Homo sapiens: one gene and its partners. The protein of the gene in region 2 purifies or fractionates together with the protein of the main gene of each other region. This does not show direct contact. Each region holds a gene or a part of one and is shown on either strand. Other genes may lie near its edges.

Region 1 (7,024 bases), about 19 Mb from region 2:
ACCAGCTCTCTGCTCAACACTGGAGTAACACCAAAGATAACATGCGCAGTGGCTCTTCCCCAGGCACCCTTGGGAGCAGAAATATACAAACAATCCCAGAACGATCCAGGACCCAAGGACCCAGGCTCTCGAGGAGGGCCCTGCAGACTAACCCAGGAAGGTGGGGGAAAGAAGCACACAGGAACACTCACGGCCTCTCCACCACACGCAGCACTAGGTCTGCGTGACAACCTGGGGGTGGGCCCGCTGTCATCTCATCCCTCTGACAGCTGGGGACACTGAGGCCAGGGAAGGGGTGGCTCACACTCTAGACTTTTTCCCCCCCAGGCCTGTGGGGAGCAGGATACTAGGTGAAACTGACAGGGAGGATGCGTCCCTGCGAGGTTCTGGGTGTGAGGCTCAGTGCCCGACCTTGGGGTAGCCAGGATGAAGCGTGGGGTGGGATAAGCCAGACTGAGGAGGGGCTCGTGGGCCCCAGGAAGGAGCTGGGATTTCCCCGTGGAGGCTCCTTGGGCGAGCGAGTTGGGTGATCAGATTGGCAGCGTCTGGATATTTCACGGCTTGATGGTGGCATGAGCGGGAAGCAGGAGAGAGGAGGGCCAGATGGCAGGGCTGGGGGGACTGGGCAAGGTGCAGGAGCAGATAAATGCAAGGAACCTGGTTGGGAGGCAGATGTGGCAGTGAGGGGGATGCGGGGCCCTGGAGGCCTCCCTCTAGCTGGCCTCAGGACCCAGATGGGGGACAGGCGGAGTGTCAGTATCAAGAAAAGATGTCCCTGGGAGGAAGGGCTGAGTCTTGACTTCTTAAAGAGGCACTGCCCAGCTAAACACTTGGGGGTCTGATGAGTCTCCAGGTCGGACTCCCTCCCCGCCATTGTGTCACTGCCAGGGGCACAGATAAGCATCCCCCCCGCCCCAGTTTGGGGAATTTTCCAACACCTCATGGGGAGAAAAACAAGGAAAAACCAACAAGTGCAGGTGGAAATTATTCCATGGTGCTGCTGACAACAGTGGGAGGGAGACAGTGCAGCTGACGGGGACCTCACCCTCCACCAGCCTTGAGGACAGGGTGGGTGGGAGCTGACAGTAATGTTCGCCTGGATCCAAATCAAAGCCTGGAACGACCAAGTAACCGGCCTGCTGGGTCTGAACCACAGCCCTCTGGCCGCCTTTGGCCCCACTGAGCCCCCGTGTCACAGTGTCACTGAAGCGCCTTCCCTTGACGGGTCTGTGTTTCCAAATGAAAGGTGTCAGCAGGAAAGTTCCTGGTGCCTTCAGAGTCGACCGGTTCAAGGCCAGCTCACGAATCCACTGTGGAGACTTGCATTGGTGAGGTCTGTATGCACTTAGGAGGCACGCTGGGCTGTGAGGCCTGGGAGAGCTCTCCTGAAAGGGGACTCCGCAGCTCCCTCTGTGTCTGCTGTCTTAGCCCTGGACGGGGCCACCTTCTAGTTCTCGTATCTGGGTGGGTCACACGGGCCAGAATCTGGATGTCTGTGGCCGATGCAAAACCAATAGTGGCTGGGAAACACACTGGCTCTGATTTCTGCTTCCCTCTGGCATTACCATGGAACCGAGACACCGTAGGGGCATGACACCACCCTAGCCGAGGCCTGCCCACTCAGGATGGGGTTCATTTTCAGAAGCAAATAAGTGGTTCATTTCAGCAGCCTCTTGGAAATCCGCAGTTTAGACAGCTCGGCACGCTGGGCGATGGGATGGCCCCGGGAGGCGCCCGGCACCTGTCCTCACTGGCGCTCCAAGGTGTCTGATGGCACTTCCACCCCACCATGTGCAGGACATGCCTAGCCACTTCCCATTCATTCATTTACCGACAATGAAATTGTATCCAACTCCTTCAATAATTCGAAGCACGGCCTAGCTGATCTGGTATTTGCACTACTCTTAATGCGAACTTCCAAAAGAACCGTTCCGCTAACCTAGAAATGCCACTTCCTAATACACACATTTGCCTGAGACAGAAAGGCCTGCTTTTAAAGAAATACCAGAGAGGGAAGAGGTTTCCCGGGAACAGCCACACACGCAAATAACCCATTGATGGAAATTTGGGGTTTGTAAATTAGAGGGTTCTGGAGAGGCACCGCCGGGGCACCACCTCCACAAGTGAGGTGCGGGTGACCTGGGCCCCCCTGACTGCCAGCATGGACTGGGCTGCTCCTGCACAGGTAAAAACATGCCCTGAACAGCAGTCTCAGAACGTCCACGCTGAAAGAGTCACGCTGCCAATCTGCCGGGCAGTCAGACAGCCCTCTTGGCATTTGCTCAGGGAAGTGGAATCATTCAAACCAGAGGAAGCAGCTGTGCCCTCTTCTAAGTTAGCACAAATAGTCAAGATCCAGTGAACCCAGAAACCACCAGCTGATCGGCTGAGCCCCCGAATGCCGTGAACATGGAGAGACGTCATCTTGAGTCCCCAGAGGAGAGCTGGTTATGGATGATTTTAGACAATGATACGACCCAAGGGGACAAACAAAAACAATTAAGGGTCCTGTCTTCACTCAACCCATCCCTTCAGAGTGGCTGAAGTACACTATCTGATCATTTCCTCTGGAAAAAAACTGGGGTATTTGCAGTGGGAAAAGTGATTTTAAACAGAAAACAGGCCGGGCACAGGGGCTCATGCCTGTAATCCCAACACTTTGGGAGCCTGAGGCAGAAGGATCATTTGAGCCCAGAGTTCAAAGACCAGACTGGGTAGTAAAGTGAGACCTTGTCTCTATCAGAACATTTTAAAATTAGCCAGATGTGGTGGTGCGCGCCTGAGGTCCCAGCTACGTGGGAGGCTGAGGTGGGACGATTGCTTGAGCCCAGGAGGTCAAGGCTGCAGTGAAGCTGTGACTGCACCACTGCATTCTAGCCTGGGCAACAGAGCGAGACTCATCTCCAAATATGTAAAAACCAAAAACTTAGGGAAAAAAAAAAAAAAAACAGAAAACAACAGGGCTGCATCCAGGCCTGGGTGGAATTTGCTTTCCCACCAGGAGATGAGGGTGATAAAATGGCTGGCGCTATTTTAAAACTGAAGTTAACAATTGTTCTGGAACTACCAGAAATGCTAAGCCAAATGATACCTTGAAACCTTGGGTGTTTTTTTTTTTTTTATGCTTTTCGAAAAAACGAGCCCTTTGCGGGTTGGGGTCACAGGAAATAGAATTATGAATTTCAGAAAGAGAACAGTCATTTCTTCAAGCTGCCGTTCACCCCACTTACCTAACTCTTCCCTACCCAAGACAGAGTACCTGAGTCATGTGTGAAGAGTTCTGTTTTTTTTAAATCAGCGTTTAATATTTTTCCACCAGAAAATAAATGAAGGGCTATTCAAGAAACTCTAGATAAAGCAGGTTTTGTTTCTGGCTTTTATTAACAATGTCACCATTTTGTATAGACCCCCAGTGCGCATCTAGGGTCAACAAAATCAAACTCACTGCCGTTGTAAAATATTTATAGGTCACCAAGAGCCAGAAACAGGTCAGGGTCTTGGGCGATTTAAATAAGCCACATGGGCCAGTCACGTGTAACCCCAGTACTTCAAGGTGGGAGGATCGCTTGAGGCCAGGAGTTCCAGACCAGCCCAGGCAACACAGCAAGACCCTACCTCTACAAAAAAAAAAAATTAAACATTAGCCTTGCGTGGTGTTGCACGCCTGTCGTCCCAGCTACTCAGGAGGCCAAGACAGGAGGATCGCTTGAGCCCAGGAATTCGAGGTTACAAGTGAGCTCTGATCGCGCCAATGCAGACCAGGCTGGGCAACACAGCGAGACCCTGTCACTAAAATAAATAAATTGACAAATAAGCCATAGGATAGCTGTGCACGGTAGAGATTATCAAGACGGCTCAGAAACAAATCGGGTGCTTTCTGTGCATTGACATGGCAGGGCTGTGTTCAAAGAGCCATCCCAGGAGTCGAAGCATCTATAAATAACACATCTCACACCTAATGATGAAGGAACTAACAAGCCCAAAGGAAGAAAGCGAGGGCATCACACATAGTGAAACCAATTCTGGGAAGACAACACCTGAAGCTTTCAGAGAACAAGATTTTCATGTATCAAGGAAGCTGCTAAAAACTCCTTGAAGCGACGGCATGTTACAATCTGGAATATTTTTTCACACAGAGAAAAACAAAGCCAGGCTTTCGAAATCCCGAGATTTGCTTCCGAAAAGGCACTTAACTTTGCTCAACAGTTTTTTGGAGCTCTTTTTGTTTTGGCTTTCAGAGTGGCTGTTCTAGACTGGATTTCTTTTTTCATTGGAGCTGGTAACTGAAATTTAAAAGCTTTAAAAAAAAAAAACTTCAAATTGCTCTTCCCTGGCGCGATCTGCCTGAAGTCCTTCAATTTGCACTTGTGGCACAAAATGCATGGGGCGGGACTGTGAGAACTTGTGCACAAAGGGCTTTTTGGGGACAGCAGAACCCTAATGTAACTTTCGCAATCTTCTTTTCATACTTCGGAAGTGTTTGACATCTTGGCTTCCAAAAACCAGTGAACACAACAGCCTCGGTGCGTCAGAAATAATACAATGAATCTACCGTGAAGGACAGATAGGTCCCGCCTCCCTGCTGGAAGAAAACGTGCCCTTATGATAGAGCATCCAAACTGCGGCTCTTTTTTTTTTTATTGAGAAACTGTTTTTCTTACAGAAGTGGCAGTGTAGAATAAATAACGCGAGGGACAGAGAGTGTGAGGTACCAAGAGGCTAAAGAAGCTGGGAGGTTTGCCTTTAAAAGGAGACAAAAATCCCAGGGAAGCTGCAAGCGGAAGGGAGTGGGGTGGCCCGGAGGCGGAGGACTCAACTTACAGAGGTGAAGTCTGCAAAGCCCGAGGCAGAGGCCTTAGAAGGTTTAGCTGCAGAGGAGGGGACAAATGGGTCTTTTCCACTAAACGGGTCCCCAAACCCCTTTTTACTTTGGAACGGGTCGCCGCTGTCAGCCCCGAGTGGCTGGAATGGATCGGGGGCCTCGGGAAAGTCTGCGGAACCAAGCTGGCTTACAGGTGTACTTTTACCTGGAAAGTTTAGGAGAAAAAAAAAAGGAGAAAGAAAGAAATATGAGTTACTCACCCGGACAGAGCAGAATGCTGGTGGGCACAAGCCCGGGGCGCTTCTCTGAGAAAAGCTTGTAACTTGGCTAACAGGCTGGACGGGGGTACCCTGGGGAATCCCAGTTTTAATCAGCTTTATCCCAGGGGCTTAACGGGTTGTGAACAACACAGGAAAAACACTTCAGATGACTCCCATACACAACGCACACAGAGCAGCTAAAACTTGAGTTGTCCTAGAATAGTTTGCATGCAGGTACGTTTCAAACAGATTCATTTTAGCATGGCAACACATTTATTAACATACTAATTTAAAAAATCATGGCTGAGCAGAAAAATACACTGCAAGCTTCTAACAGTAAAAAAAAAAAAAGGCAGAGGGGAGAGTTACTTGCAAATGAAAAGGAGGAATTAGTTTCACAACGTGGTATGGTTATTCGGTGTGTTAGTTATAAGGGTCTGCACACAGCTCTGCCATGCTGAGGTTTAAGTTCTTTTTTTTTTTTTTTTTTTTTTTTTTTTCAGAGACAGAGTCTTGCTCTGTCACCTGGGCTGAAATGCAGTGGTGCAATCATGGCTTATTGCGGCCTTGGCCTCCAGGGCTCAAGCGATCCTCCCACCTCAGCCTCCTACAGGCATGAGCCACCATGCGTGGCTAATTTTTGTATTTTTAGTAGAGATGGGATTTTGCCATGTTGCCCAGGCTAGCCTCAAACTCCTGCCCTCAAGTCATCTGCCCGCCTCAGCCTCCCAAAGTGCTGGGATTACAGGCATGAGCCACTGCACCTGGCCTTAAGTTCTTTTTTAGCCCCCACTTCTGTCCCTCTGGTGTTGGTGGCTCCAAGGGGCAGCGTTTATCTGGGCCTTTCTGGGCTTCTGCCAAGCAGGGAACTCCAGGATGCCCGGTCCCAGCAAGGTATATCTTGACAGGGAGGTGAGAGAGAAGTGTTCAGAAATGGAGGAAAATGACACTGTGTGGGGGACATGGCCTGAGGATGGTAGCTTTTCCCAGTGCATCCTGCCAATGTACCAGAACATTCCACCAAGAAGCAGAGGCCTGTTAAGATCTGCTTGGTGACGGGAGGTCCCACCTGACGGGCCTTCCAGCATCTGCAGTTTGCAGGCCAGCCGGGCTGACTCCATGCTCCTGACACCCCTCTATCTGCCCAACGGAGTCCCTGGGCATTCAACGTGGTCCACGCAGCACCCCAGACTGGAAGCTCAATAATATGCAACACGATTCCGGCGTGTTAACTCTGGAAGTTTCGAAGCTAATGTTTAGAAAAAACCAGGAACTGCCTGTCCCTCCAGGGTTGACCTTGGATCTCTGGCTGCACCTCCAGAGAGCACCCTGGCTCCCAGCCACACCTGCCCCGCCCACCACCTGAGCCTGGGACACCTGCCTTCCTCATCCGGTAGAACGAGCCCACACAGGCCAGCCTCGGTCCCTCTCCATGCCCAGATCTAAAGCCTTTCCCTCTGTTCCCCCAGCAGATCAGCCATCCCAGGCCTCATTTTTGAGGCCCCAGGTGTCCTTGTGGGCTCCGGGGCTACAGCCCCCATCTGCCACCTTTAGCTCTGGGCCTCGGCAAGGGAAAGTGCCTCCTCCCAGCTGGCCTCCGTTTCCTTATCTGTGAAGTGGAAATGAGAAGGAGGGCGCCAAACAAGGTGACATTCCTGGGGTCCAGGAGTCTCCTCCCACTCAGTGTCCTGCACCGCCGTGCCCAGCATAGGCCAGTGAGAACCTGGCCCGTAGCCCCCCCTTGCCTGTAGCCCTACTTCTGGAAATGGAAATTCACTTTTCTCTCAACCGGCAGTTCTGGGCCAGCATAAGGACTGCTGCTTTCTTTTTGCATATTCAAGGAAAAACAGTCTTCCTTCCCACGGTTTGCACAGAAGGACTCGGAGACAAACTCCCCTGCAGCCCACCCTTGCGGCCTGCCTGTCCGCCTCTGCCCGTCCCA
Region 2 (7,024 bases):
GCTAACTTACTGGAAGAAGTGGCCACCCATGGTCTGTGTGTTTACAGGGCAACAAAGCTGCCCTTTATATAAAGCCCAGATGCTGGGTCCACCACTGTCCCCACAAGCCGAAATCAAGTATCCTCTTTGGCAGCCAAGCCCCTGTTCTAGAAAAAATGAGTCATCTGGGAGACGTGGGTCCTGCCCACCTGGTCACCTTCCAGATTGAGATGCAGTGGCAGGAGCCTCGGGAATTAACTTGCCTGCCCCGGCCAAGCAGCAAAGTGTCTCCTCTAGTGTTTCTAACTCATGGACTGCACCCATTTCTGCCTGCCCCACCAGGCTCTAGGCTTGACAGTTCAAGGTAAGATCCTCCTCCCTTCCTTCCTCCCTAGGGCAAGAGGCTTGCAAAATTCCTGGGCCCTAGGCAAGTGGCTTCCTCCCTGGGACCCCAACAGGAAAATGGAGGAGAGAGATGGGCCCAGAGAGGGTGCCTCACCTCTGATTTGGTTTGGAAGCAGAAGACTAAGTGCACAGCCTAGAGGAAGCCCCTTCATTAGCTCAGGCAGCCTGCAACTTTATCATCAGCAGTGGGACCTGCTGCCTCCTGAAGGGTGGGCGGAGGCTGTGGCAGCAGCAGATGTAACAGGGCCTCTGCCAGGGAGTTAATGGGGCCCTGGGTTGGGGTAACAGGGTCTCCGGATGGAGGAAATGTGGTGTGGGGACAGGGGAATGTGGCATTGGGACCAGCATTTAGTCCTGGCCCTAGCTCTGGTCTTAGTGGGTTCACTGCAAACTTGGTTGCAGCCCATCTGTGAAATGGACCTAACACTTACTCACTGAGCAAAAAGCTGTCAGCTGAACACAACAAGAGGGAGGGGATGGGATGGCCTGCATAAGCCTCCAGGGAGCAGTGGAATTTTTTCAGGGAAGTGATCCTTTGAGGAACCAGGTTGCACACCACTGACTTCAATGACTATAAAATTAGCCAGCGACTTCCTTAATGCTAACAACAACCCATGAAGTCAGGACCTAACAGAAGGAAACAGGACTCAGAGAGGGAAGGCTGCTTCTCTGGGGTCACTCTGTGTGCACCAGGGCTCTGACTGGTGCCCTGTCCCTCAGTCACTACTGAGGCTGATAGTGGCAGTGCCCAGCAGCTGACAGACGTAGAATATTTTATATAGGTTGGGCCCCATGCTCAATGGTGTGCACATGAGCTCGCCAAATCCCCAGATGCACCCAGTGTGGTGAGCTCTGCCATAAGCCCCATTTTATAGGGGATGACACTGAGCCCTAGGGAGGGAAACTGCTCACTGGGCTTCTGAGCAGGAAGGTGTCAAGCAGGCCTCAGCTCTCCACCTGCCCATGCTTGCAAGGATTGCCTGGCACTTCACTGTTCATGTATCTTGGACTGTGTGCACACAGGCTGGTCTACCCAGACACCCTCCTGAAGGAAACCAAGGACTGGCAACAGCTGTGGTCCCCGAGGAGGGGAAACGGGACAGCAGCTAGAGGGATGCTGAAGTGTCCATCAGTGCCACTTAGTGTACACACTGTGGTCTGGTGTCCCAAGGCTGATGGCTGTGACCACGTCAATCAGCTCCTCTGTGAAAGTGTCCCGTTGGGATATTCACAAACATTCACAGAAGAGAGACAGGAGCAAGTCTTTTTCAATTGCACATGTCTGACTCCTCTCATAGAGTTAGGTCCCTCTCTCTCTGTCTTCTGTCTTCTCTTACCTTCCCCTGCTTGGTTTGCTTACTTCCCCTTTAGCTCTCATCTCACATCCAGTCCCAGCTCTCCACAGTAGCCATGCTGGTGTGCTAGATACGACCCTAGACATAGTAGCTGGGTAAAATGTGCAGCATTCCTGTGGGTATGTGTTTTCAAACATTTGCTTAAATTTGGCCAGGCATGGTGGCTCACACCTGTAGTCCTAACACTTTGGGAGGCCAAGGTAGGGGTGCGGGGGAGCGGACTGCCTGAGGTCAGGAGTTCGAGACCAGCCTGGCCAACATGGCAAAACCCCGTCTCTACTAAAAATACAAAAATTAGTCAGGCGTGGTGGCAGGCGCCTATATCCCAGCTACTCGGGAGGCTGAGGCAGGAGAATAGCTTAAACCCGGGGGGCGGAGGTTGCAGTGAGCAGAGATCACGCCACTTTACTCCAGCCTGGGCGACAGAGTGAAACTGTCTCCAAAAAAAAAAAAAAATTTGCTTAAGTTTAAGGCCAGGTGTGGTAGTTCATGCCTGTAATCCCATCACTTTGGGAGCCTGAGGCAGGATCACTTGAGGTCAAGAGTTCAAGACCAGCCTGGGCAACATAGCAAGACCCTGTCTCTACAGAAAATTTTTAAAAATTGGCCAGCATGGTGGCACATGCCTGTAATCCCAGCACTTTGGGGAGGCTGACTTGGGAGGATCACCTGAGGCCAGGAGTTTGAGATCAGGCTGGGCAACATACTGAGACCCCGTCTCTACAAAAAACAAAAATCAAAAAATTAGCTGGGCATGGTGGTGTGTGCCTACAGTCCCAGCTGCTCCAGAGGCTGAGGCGGGAGGACTGCTTGAACCCGGGAGTTTGAGGCTGCAGAGAGCTATGATCGCACTGCACTGCCTGGATGACAGAATGAGACCCTTTCTCTAAAACAAAAAAAATTTTTTTTGCTTAAATCATGTAGTGTTGTAAACCTTGTTTGGTTTCTTAACTTTTTCACTTAACATTTTTTTTTCTTTTTTTTTTGAGACAGAGTCTCACTCTGTCGCCCAGGCTGGAGTGCAGTGGCGTGATCTCAGCTCACTGCAACCTCCACTTCTTGGGTTTAAGCGATTCTCATGCCTCAGTCTCCTGAGTAGCTGGGATTACAGGCGATCACCACCATGCCCAGCTAATTTTTGTATTTTTAGTAGAGAACTGGGTTTTACCATGTTGGCCAGGCTGATCTGGAACTCCTGACCTCAAGTGATCCACTCGTCTTGGCCTCCCAAAGTGCTGGGATTACAGGCGTAATCACTGCGCCTAGCCAAGATTTGGTTTTTTTAGAGGGCTTTACTTCCATGTGACTAGTATCTTGTACTGTTGGACATTTTTACCATGTGTATGGATTATACTTACAAAAGAAAAGAACAACATAAATAAAAATAAACTAAAAGTTGGAGGAAGTAAACGACAATCTAAACAGCAGACCCTCCTCAGCCTACTTTCTCCCCACTGGCTAAATTCACACCCTCCAGACCAACGCCACTGTCCTGGGGGCAGGTGGATGGCCACCTCCTTCCCTTGGATGCAGGATGTTGCCCAAACCAGGGTGGCCATGAGCGGGACACTTACGGGCCTCGGGGCAGCAGCACTTGTCTGGGCAGCAGGGGCACCTGACGTAGCAGCAGCAAGTGTGCGGGCAGCACTGGCACCAGCAGATGCCCAGGAGGAGGAAGATGAGGAAGGCAGCCAGGCATACCACAACCACGAAGAGCCAGTCTGCAGAAAGACAACAGGCCCTGAGCCCGGAGGCCTGGGAGGGAACAGGGCTAACGGCACAGCAGGGGTACATGGTGCGGAGCCAGCACTGAGGTCGGGGACGATTTGCAAAGCTCACCAAGGAACCTGCAGCCCTGGCTGGATTTTTTGTGCCAGAGGCTGGGCACAGCACACTCCCCATTCTACCATCCCGGCCATTCCCCAGTTACGGCCCTCCCCCAGGTGCAAAAAACACAAGGCAGAAAACGAGGCAGCCTGCACAGAGGGAGACAGACTGCAGCCCCCAGACCAAAGAGAGAGCCAGCTGCCCAGACGCCACACCCTCAAGAGCACCGCAGGTGCCAGTCACAGAGCCCTGGCCTGCACCCCAGGCTCTCCTCAGCCCAGCCTAGCCTAGGCCCAGCGCCAGACCACTAGATGCCTCAGAGCCACAGTCAGGCCAGGTTAGTGAGGGGTCCACAGTGAGCAGGGTTTAGTGGGGAAGGGGATACTAACTAGAGTCAGAAGCAGTAGGTGATGTATGGGAGCTCCCGAGAAGCCCAACTCAGGATCCACCCCCCGTACCTTCTATGGGCCCCGCCTGAAAACCAGGTAAGAGCTCAGCCACCCCTGAGGTCCTCCCTGGAGGGACAAAAGAGAAACAGATTATGCTGGCCAGAGCCAGCCCAGGCTGTGCCACCCCCGAAAGCCCAGCTCCAGGCTGGCCAAGTGCAAGGTGTGCCCTGAAGCGGGAAGGGGCTGGGGGCTGAAGCCCTAGTGCATGGCTCCTACCCTCCACCCGCCCACATGTGGGTGCTTATAGGTAAGAAACTCCCATTGCATAATCCACCTGTGTTATGCCACGAGGGCTCCAATACAAATCCCAGGGGGTTCTGAGGGCTCTACCTCAGCTTGGGCACCCTAAGTTTCCCTCATTCATAGGTCTTAGCACCCCAAAGGGCTCCAACCACGGTGATAGGGATGTCCTGTTCCAGCAGGCACAGGGACCTAGGGCCCACGAAATAGGATCTCAGCTCTGTCGCCCAGTCTGGAGTGCAGGGGTGTGATCATGGCTCACTGCAGCTTCAACCTCGTGGGCTCAGGCGATCCTCCCACCTCAGCCTCTGGGGTAAGTAGCTAGGGCTACAGGCATGTGTCACCACACCTGGCTGAAATGGTTTAATTTTACTTTACAAATCTGAACACAAATTAACACAATATACAGGAATAAACTCTTTGTGACAACATAATCACACATTTTTTTTAAAACAGGAAGGGACCCATGAAGGCAAAAATACCCACATATGAAAGTCATATGCAGTCCTGGTTCTGGGACCCACAAGGTCTCCATCTCTACTCATGCACTGTCACATTCACGCATCTCAGAGCCGGTTCTTGTCTTCCCTCGAGTGCCCCTGGAGCTCTGAGCCCCACCAGTGTTGTGTCTGAGGGGCCTCCACAGGCCCAGCTCTGCACCCACGAAGCCCTCCCCAGAGCTCATGCACTTGGCACTATAGGCCCTCGCAACAGGACAGAGGCATGTCAGTCACAGCTCTCAAAGCGTGGTCCTGTCCACAAGGCCAAAAGAAGAAATTTTAGAATAACACTAAGATGTTATTTGCCTTTTTCACTTGTTCTCCCATGAATGTCCAGTAGAGTTTCCCAGGCTCCCTGATGCCATCATCGCCCTGATGCCTAATGGACTATATGCGTGTGTGTGTGTGTGTGTGTGTTTGTGTTTCTTGAGCCAGGGTCTCTGTCACTCATGCTAGAGTGCAGTAGCATAGTCACGGCTCACTGCAGCCTTGACCTCCTGGGTGCAAGCGATACTCCTGCCTCAGCCTCCCAAGAAGCTGGGCTCACAGGTGCATGCCACCATGCCTGGTTAATTTTAAAATTTTTTGTAGAGTCAGGGTCTTGCCATGTTGCCCAGTCTTCCTTGTGTATCTTGGGCTTGAAAAATCTCCCCATTTTAAGGCCGGGCAGTGGCTCATGCCTGTAATCCCAGCACTTTGGGAGGCCCAGGTGGGTGGATCACGAGGTCAGGAGATCGAGACCATCCTGGCTAACATGGTGAAACCCAGTCTCTACTAAAAATACAAAAAAAATTAGCCGGGTGTGGTGGCGGGTGCCTGTAGTCCCAGCTACCTGGGAGGCTGAGGCAGGAGAATGGCGTGAACCCAGGAGGTGAAGCTTGCAGTGAGCCGAGATCGAGCCACTGCACTCCAGCCTGGGCGACAGAACGAGACTCCATCTCAAAAAAAAAAAAAAAAAAGGAAAATCTCCCCATTTTAATTCCTAATATGTTAAGCAACAGATAGACATAAAACCCACAGAAACAAACAAAAGCTCTTGGAGACCCTCGATAATGTTTTAGAGTGTAAATAGACCTGGAGACTAATTTTGGGAACTGCTGATGCAAATGGTGCATTTTACCGAAGAACAGGCAGAGGTTCCTGGGTCACTGGTGCACGTGTTCCATCCCCCACACATGAACTCTGTCTTGCAGCCCAAGTACCCCCCAGTCACGTGCTCATTCACACATGTGAAGATGGCAGTGTACAGCCCAGCGGCATCACTCATGCAGAGCACATGTCATACAAGACTCCATGTGTTGGCTTACAGCAGGGCACCTGGCCGATGGCAACATCCCCCTAACACAAGGAGGCCTCCCAGCCACACGGACACCCCGCCCTGCCCCTGGGTGTCTGGAATCGGCTTCGTTTCAGCTGCACTCAAACTTACACAGTGTGTGTGCCATGCAGCGCCATCCCAGCAGGGCACACGGCAAAACCGCTGTGCTTTGGCGAGGGACTCGGGTGAGATGAGGCCTTGGGGATGTAGCAAGAGGTGGGTCGATTTTGCACACCATCAACTGTCCTCATTCACTGCCCATGGACTCTGACCACGTCTGGATTTTTTTTTTTTTTGGACAGAGTCTCACTCTGTCGCCCAGGCTGGAGTGCAGTGGCTTGATCTTGGCTTACTGCATCCTCTGCCTCCCAGGTTCAAGCAATCCTCATGCCTCAGCCTTCTGAGTAACTGGGATTACAGGCATGTGCACCACCACGCCTGGCTTTTATATTTTTTATAGAGACGGGATTTTGCCACGTTGGCCAGGCTAGTCTCGAACTCCTGGCCTCAAGTGATCCACCCGCCTCGGCCTCCCAAAGTGCTGGGATTACAGGCATGAACTACCGCACCCGGACCCCAAGTCTGGATTTTTTTTAAAAATGAGACTTTGAAAAGGCAGAGTCTCCAATTGTCTCCACTCTTCTCTTAGTTTGGCTTGGGTGATTGGAGGCACTGTGGGCCAGTGGTCCCTGCCTGGGGTGCAGGGCACAGGGGAGCCTAAGTGACTGGCAGAGCCTGGGGGAGAGCAGAGCAGGCGACAGAGCCCAGAGGGTAAGCTGGAGGGCAGAGGGCGGACACAGGGGAGGGCAGACAGAACAGAAGCGGACAAAAGGAAGGGCCATGCCTCCCCCTTCCCAGGCCCACTCACCAAGGACGATGAGCTCTGCGTAGGCCTCATTGTTCCCCTGGAGGTCCTGGGCTGAGACCACGGAGCAGTAATACACACCACTG
Region 3 (7,024 bases), on a different chromosome or scaffold from region 2:
TTTAATTTTTTTCATGTGGCTACTAGAAAATTTAAAATTACATATGTAGCTCACATTTTATTTCTGTTTGACGTGCTGTAGAGGCTTTGAATACTTGCAGATGGACCGGTTGGCTAGTGATGGGAGAAAAGATTTTATATTAATTATTTGATTAAAAACCTTTATACAGAAAAATTGACTTCTTTTGTTGTACAGCTGATGAATTTCAGCACATGTATACATTTGTGTATCTACCACCATAATCAGGATATAGTTTTTTTGTTGTTGTTGTTGTTTTGAGACGGAGTTTCGCTCTTGTTGCCCAGGCTGGAGTGCAGTGGTGCAGTCTCAGCTCACTGCAACCTCCGCCTCCTGGATTCAAGCGATTCTCCTGCCTCAGCTTCCCAAGTAGCTGGGATTACAGGCATGTGCCACCATGCCCGGCTAATTTTGTATTTTTAGTAGAGATGGGGTTTTGCCATGTTGGTCAGGCTGGTCTCGAACCGCTGACCTCAGGTGATCCACTCACCTCGGCCTCCCAAAGTGTTGGGATTATAGGCATGAGCCACTGCGCCCGGCCAGGTTTTTTAATTTCCAAAAAAAAAATTTTTGAAGGCTGTTTAATTTTCTGGGGCCAATCAAGTGATACAGTGCTGCAGAAATAACCTCTAGGTTACATTCAGCTGGTCATTAGTGCACATGGGTTTGCACCTGGTGTCCTGTGGCTGTGTATAGCTTAGACTGCAAAGAATTTGAAATTTGAATTTGAATGTCTTCAGACAGAAGTGCTCTTGTTCAGCCACAGTCCCCACCAGTCCCTTTTGCCTTTCACTTGTCTCACTTGACTCAGGTATATTTCCTACTTGACCTCTGTAAGCACTTTCCTTTGTGACCCCCAAGCACTGGAGTAGATGCTGGCATAAGAATAGTGAAGAAGGCTCCTAGTCTCTGCCTGCCAGGATACTGACTGGAGACATGCTGAGCTTACAGCATTTACACATGATTAGGGAAACAGTCATTTAACATGCAGTCAGATGGGTGTGGCTCTTTCTTCTCCCCACTCACTGCAGTGGCGAGTCATGCGGGCACCCCATGGTCATCCTTAGTTTTTGCCTCCATGAGATGGCTCTGAAGAGCGGCCTTCCTCACATGATGGTGGCGTCTGGTATCTGTTTCAGGGGGCACGGAAGAGCACCTCCCAGGACTGTCATCTTCCCCAGACCAGTCCGAGAGCTCCTCCGGGGAGAACCATGTGGTGGATGGAGGCTCTCAAGACCATTCCCACTCGGAGCAGGATGACTCCTCTGAAAAGATGGGCCTCATCTCTGAAGCAGCTTCCCCACCTGGGAGCCCTGAGCAGCCCCCACCTGACCTGGCCTCGGCCATCAGCAACTGGGTTCAGTTTGAAGATGACACACCCTGGGCCAGCACATCTCCACCTCATCAGGAAACAGCTGAGACAGGTGAGGAGGTAGGAAGGGCCCGGCTTGGGTTTGTGGTCAGCAGGGATGCTTTTCAGTGAGAGGTCTATAGGGCTGCCAGGATTCCATTTCATCTGCCCCCTAACCCTGAAGCACTGGTCGCATAGGGGAGAGCAGACGGAGTTCTCATCTGGTTTAATTCTGTAACTTGTTTTTGTTGACATAAGCATACAAAAGAATGTATGTGTTCTAGGACATTTCTAGTCCTTTACTCTTGTCCCTGGCTGTTGACTTGTCTTTAAAATAATGCATATATATTTTTCTATTAGGGATTGGAATTATATTTACTCAGCCCCTAAACTGTAAGCACCTTACATACAGAAATGAATGTTTCTGCTGGGTGCGGTGGCTCATGCCTATAATTTCATCACTTTGAGAGGCCGAGAAGGGTGGCTCACTTGAGGTCAGGAGTTTGAGACCCACCTGGCTAACACGGAGAAACCCCGTCTCTGCCAAAAATACAAAAATTAGCTGGGCGTGGTCGTGCACTTCTGTAATCCCAGCCACTCAGGAGGCTGAGGCATGTGAATTGCTGAACCTGGGAGCGGAGGTTGCAGTAAGCTGAGGTCGCGCCACTGCACTCCAGGCTGGGTGACAGAGCTAGACTCTGTCTCCAAAAAATAAAAACAGAAATGAATGTGTGTTAAAGTGTGGACCACTGACCATGTCTAACCAAGTCACCAATAGGATTTGTTAAACATGGATATTCTCACACTTCAGAACTCTTGAATCCAAATCCTCATGGGTAGGGATGGTTGTTCATGAGAAATCTCTTATTTTGTGGCATTTCAATGGCCAGAAGCTGCACTGGGGAGCTTAGTAAAGCTGTAGGACTTGTTAGTCCCCATCCTGGTGACCTGGCTACTTCTTTATTGTGCACTGAAGTATGCCACAGGTGATTGGATAAGCTTTGGGACTGTATTAGTTTTCTATTTGCTGCTGTAACAAGTCACCACAAGTGTAGTGGCTTGAACAACATAAGTTTATCATCTTATGATTCTGTATTTCAGAAGTCCATCATGGGTGTCACCGGGTCAAAATCAAGGTGTTGGCAGGGCTGTGTTCCTTTCTGGAAGCTCTAGGGGAGAGTCTGTTTCCTGGCCCTTCCCAGCTTTCAGAGGCTGTCAACATTCCTTGGCATATGGCCCCTTCCTCTATCTCCAAAGCCAGGAATGTGGCATCTCTTTGTGCCTTTCTTCTGAAGTCACATCTTTCCCTGACATCTGCCTTTGTCTTCCATTAAGGACCTCTGTGGTTATGTTGGGCTCACCAGGCATTAAGGACCTCTGTGGTTACACTGGGCTCACCGGGATAATGTCCCCATCTCAAGGTCCTTAACATAATCACATCAGTAAAGTTCTTTTGCCATATAAAGTAACATATTCACAGGTTCTGGAAATCAAGATGTGGACATCTTGGGGTAGAATGGGAGGCATTCTGTCTACCACAGAGACCTACTAGCAAAAAGCAGGGTTGATATATTTTTCTGTTGGTGTGTTAAATGTTTTGCTAGTGTCACTTTTTAAGGCTGATTCCTTTGTTTTTCAGTGTGTTTTCAATACTAAAATGATTTTAAGAAAATATAAAACAATTCTGTAACAAACATTTATATTTTTACATAATAATTTGCACATTTATGTCTATTTTTTCATATTTGAACATCAGATTTCCTTTTTTTTTTGTTTGAGATGGAGTCTTGCTCTGTTGCCCAGGCTGGAGTGCAGTGGTGCAATCTCAGCTCACTGCAACCTCTGCCCCTGAGGTTCAAGCAATTCTCAGGTCTCAGCCTCCTGAGTAGCTGGGATTACAAGCACCCATCACCATGCCTGGCTAATTTTTGTATTTTTAGTAGAGACAGGATTTTGCCATGTTGGCCAGGCTGGTTTCGAACTCCTTGACCTCAGGTGATCCACCTGCCTTAGCCTCCCAAAGTGCTGGGATTACAGGCGTGAGCCACTATGCCCAGCCTAAACATCAGATTTCTGCATGAATTGTCATTGAGTCATGACTCTCAGTGCAGCGTGGAAGAAGTGACAGGTCCAGACAGGCTTCCCTTACTGAACACCTAACACTGAGAAGGCTCTGGGCTAAGTGTTGATGCATGTAGGGAAAAGTTACGGAACACTGGGCAGTGAATGAGCACAGAAATAATGTTCCTTCTGCTTAATATGATACATTTACTGCATACTTATTGTCTCAGTTTCTGTGCTCAGTGCCTTAGCTACTTCATATCATGTACTCCTTACAACAATTGTATGAGGAAGGTATTAATATTAATCCATATTACACATGGTGGAGGAGACTCAGCCAGAAGTGGGCTTTGGGAATTCAACCAAGATTGTGTGCTAGGAAATGGCAGGAGAGCTTCCGCACCAGGCTGACCGGCCCCAAGGTCTTGGAGCAGCCTTCGGATGCCCTGTGCTCTCCTTCCGTTTGCCTCACTCTTCCTGCTGCTGCTGCTGCTGCTGCTCTAGTATCCTCTGCTCCCTCATTACCCAGGAGGCAGTGGGGGCAAGGAATGGAAGGTAAGTGATGGGTGGGGTGCTCTTTCTCCACTTTGCTGCCCTAAAATGGCCGTGCCTTCAGGTCATGGATTATATTCATGCCATTCAGATTCTTTCACATTTTATCTTTAGCCTCAAAGATTTCCTGATTGCTCAAAACTATTTATATGACAGTCAATTTGCTCAACTCTTCACTGATTTTTCCAAAACTAATTTTGAGATTAGTCATAATTATGTTGCCCCCATCTGACTGAGGATCTTATCTTGTGACTGACAATGCTTTTGATATATTGTGAAAGCTTTACCCTTTAAGGCAGCAATTCACAGTCTGGCCCATAGACCTTGCTGTCTCCTGAGACCCTTTCAAGGCGTCTTTGGGGTTAAAATCATTTTCATTCTAATTCTAAGATGTTATTTGCCTTTTCACTGCATTGACATTTGCATTGATGGTTAAAAAATAACAGCAGATGAAACTTTTGGCCATTGTCTACTCACAGTAAAACAAAATGTATATTTCACCCAATAATATCCTTGATGAGGCAGTAAAAATTATTAATTTCTTAAAATTGTGATTCTTGAGTATGTCTTTTTAACATTCTCTGTGACAGATTGGGAAAAAATACATGAAGCACTTTTGCTCCATATCAAATTGTAATAATTGTCTTGAAAAAAAAGTTTTTAAAAAAATATTTAAGAATTCAGTTTAAAAATTAAAGTTATTTTAAAATTATTTTTTAAAATCACATAATGCAAAAAATTCTTAATGAACAAAATATCAGTACTTTAAAGACAAGATTCAATTAACACTTTCATGACTATGCTACACTTGGCCCACCTGGACCTGGTGTTGCAGGAATTTTCCTAAAGTTCAGCTAAAGATGGGGTCCTTGTCCATCCCACAGCCATGAAAATTCAGGCTCACAGATGGTTTGAAGGGTAAGTAAAGCAGGGCTTTATTGGGTGAAAAGGAAAAAAGAGGGGAAACAGGGACTCTCAGCGAGGCCAGAGTTCATCTAGAGCACTTCCGGACCGCGCCCAAATCCCAGGTTCCACACAGGAAGAGGAGGGGCCAGGCTCTTCCCTGCTGCAAGTGGCACAAACTTCCGCAGCTCCACCCCAGTGCACAGGCCAGTTGGAGTTTTTCTGGGAACCCCCTCCCCTCTGGCTGTCTCACTGGTTCTAATAAAGCTTTATTTACAGAGATAGTCAACCTGTGAGCTGTAGTTTGCTGCTTTGATTTTGAGTTGATATTTTTAACATATTGCCTTAAAATGTTACTTTGATTACTGAGTTTTTTGGCACCCTCTTAAATTTTACCTCCAAGGCAAGTGTGTCACTTGCCTTAGCCTAATCTCAGCCCTGCATTGTCCTAAGAATTTTAGATGTATTAATATTACTAGAGAATAAATCAAGAAATGACAGTGTTCAAATGCATGAAAGCATAATTTTGAAAACTGCTCAAGTATGAATAATTCCATCTGTTCATATGTGTGAAAATTTAACTCAACCCTGTGGAGATGGAGTTTTCTACCTTAGGAGGGTCCTGTAGGATGGGTTCCCAGCAGACTTGATGCCCAGTCTGTAGGCAAGAAGCAGAAATAAACCATGTGGAGGGCCAGCCCCACCTCAAGAAGTGTTTCTAACCTGGAAACCCAAGGAGCATAGGGGACGGTGCACAGCATTAGAGTGGTAAAGAAAATGGTTCAATTCCAAATTTTCTGCCAATACCCAACTTGACCCATCAATGAACCTAAACTGAATCAAAAGCTGCAGAGTACATTCCTATTACCCAAACTAACCTCTCCCACATAAGCTAATTCCCTCTTGGGTTTCCTCCCATGGATTGTGTTTAACAATAAGGATAGAGTAATTGGCAGAGCTAAGGCCAATTACACAGGAGAGACTAGGCGTTAGCCCCCCACTCCTGCCCCCACATAATGGATAATGTAGACATTCCCCAAGTTACACAGTCATTCCATTCAGGAGGCTGTTGTGCAGCTCAGATTTTAATTTGAATCCAAAATGTTTGAATGCATGTGCTGTATATTGCAATAATACCACATATGTAACTGCAGGCATTATGCAGAAATAACACAGATGTTTGCAGCAAGTAGAGACAGTGTGAGACTTGCTGCAATCACTGCTACCTGCTCTGTTCTTCCAGTAATACTAAGCTGAGTAATGGCTCCCAAAGACATTAGGTTGTCCTCCCTGGAACCTATAAATATTATCATATTTGGGAAAAGGGTCTTTGTAGATGAGAGTAAGGATTTTGAGATGGGGAGATAATTCTGGATTATCTGTGGGCCTTAACTGCAATCACATGCATCCTTATGAAAGTGGCAGAGGGCGATTTTGCTTACACAGAAGAGAAGGCACTGTGAAGATGAAACAGAAAGAAATTTGAAAATGCTGATCTTAAAGATTTTAGTGATGAAGCCACAGCCAAGGAATGCCGGCAGCCACCAGAAGCTGCAAGATACAAGAAACAGATGCTTCCTTAAAGCCTCTGCGGGGAGTGCAGTTCTGCTGACATCTTGATTTTAGCACAGTGATTCTCATCTCAGACTCTGGCTTCCAGAACTGTGAGAGAATAAATTACTGTTGTTTTGAGATACCAAGTTTGTGGTAATTTGTTACAGCAGCCATAGGAAACTAATGTACTAAGTCTGTAAAATCTTAAAATGGAACCCTTTGCATAAGGCTGAGAATGAGTCAGTCTGAATTAGGGGAGCATCTGTAAATCTGTAATGATGCAGGACTTTTTGTTTGTTTGTTTGTTTGTTTGTTTTTTGTTTTGTTTTTTGAGACGGAGTCTCGCTCTGTTGCCCAGGCTCTGGAGTGCAGTGGCGCGATCCCAGCTCACGATGCAGGGTATTTCTTAAGGAGATGTGTGCATGTCAGTGTGCTTTGTCCCTAAACCTTACAGCTCCTTATAATTTACTCATTGAGTCACCAGATATTTACTAAGCACTTCCTCTGTATAGTTCTGCTAGGTGTGGATATTCAAAGACATAGCGCAGTGCTCAGAATTGAGCAGAAATCCACTGGGCTTCTTCC

What was found.
Region 1: the proteins of LSR (region 2) and EPS15L1 purify together in Homo sapiens (affinity purification with mass spectrometry; 2 studies listed by BioGRID and IntAct, with this or other methods). This does not show direct contact.
Region 3: the proteins of LSR (region 2) and STON2 purify together in Homo sapiens (affinity purification with mass spectrometry; 2 studies listed by BioGRID and IntAct, with this or other methods). This does not show direct contact.

The regions. Positions count from the first base shown.
Region 1 is NC_000019.10:16,356,958-16,363,981, forward strand, and holds part of EPS15L1 (epidermal growth factor receptor substrate 15-like 1), read right to left. Parts: intron 5,028-7,024; coding exon 4,822-5,027; coding exon of another isoform or gene 4,813-4,821; exon of another isoform or gene 4,621-4,812; intron 1-4,620.
Region 2 is NC_000019.10:35,258,982-35,266,005, reverse strand, and holds part of LSR (lipolysis-stimulated lipoprotein receptor isoform 2 precursor), read right to left. Parts: coding exon 6,942-7,024; intron 6,936-6,941; exon of another isoform or gene 6,185-6,935; intron 5,008-6,184; exon of another isoform or gene 4,604-5,007; intron 4,082-4,603; coding exon 4,025-4,081; intron 3,461-4,024; coding exon 3,314-3,460; intron 1-3,313. UniProt on the Homo sapiens protein: Probable role in the clearance of triglyceride-rich lipoprotein from blood. Binds chylomicrons, LDL and VLDL in presence of free fatty acids and allows their subsequent uptake in the cells.
Region 3 is NC_000014.9:81,390,312-81,397,335, reverse strand, and holds part of STON2 (stonin-2), read left to right. Parts: intron 1-1,157; coding exon 1,158-1,442; intron 1,443-7,024. UniProt on the Homo sapiens protein: Adapter protein involved in endocytic machinery. Involved in the synaptic vesicle recycling. May facilitate clathrin-coated vesicle uncoating.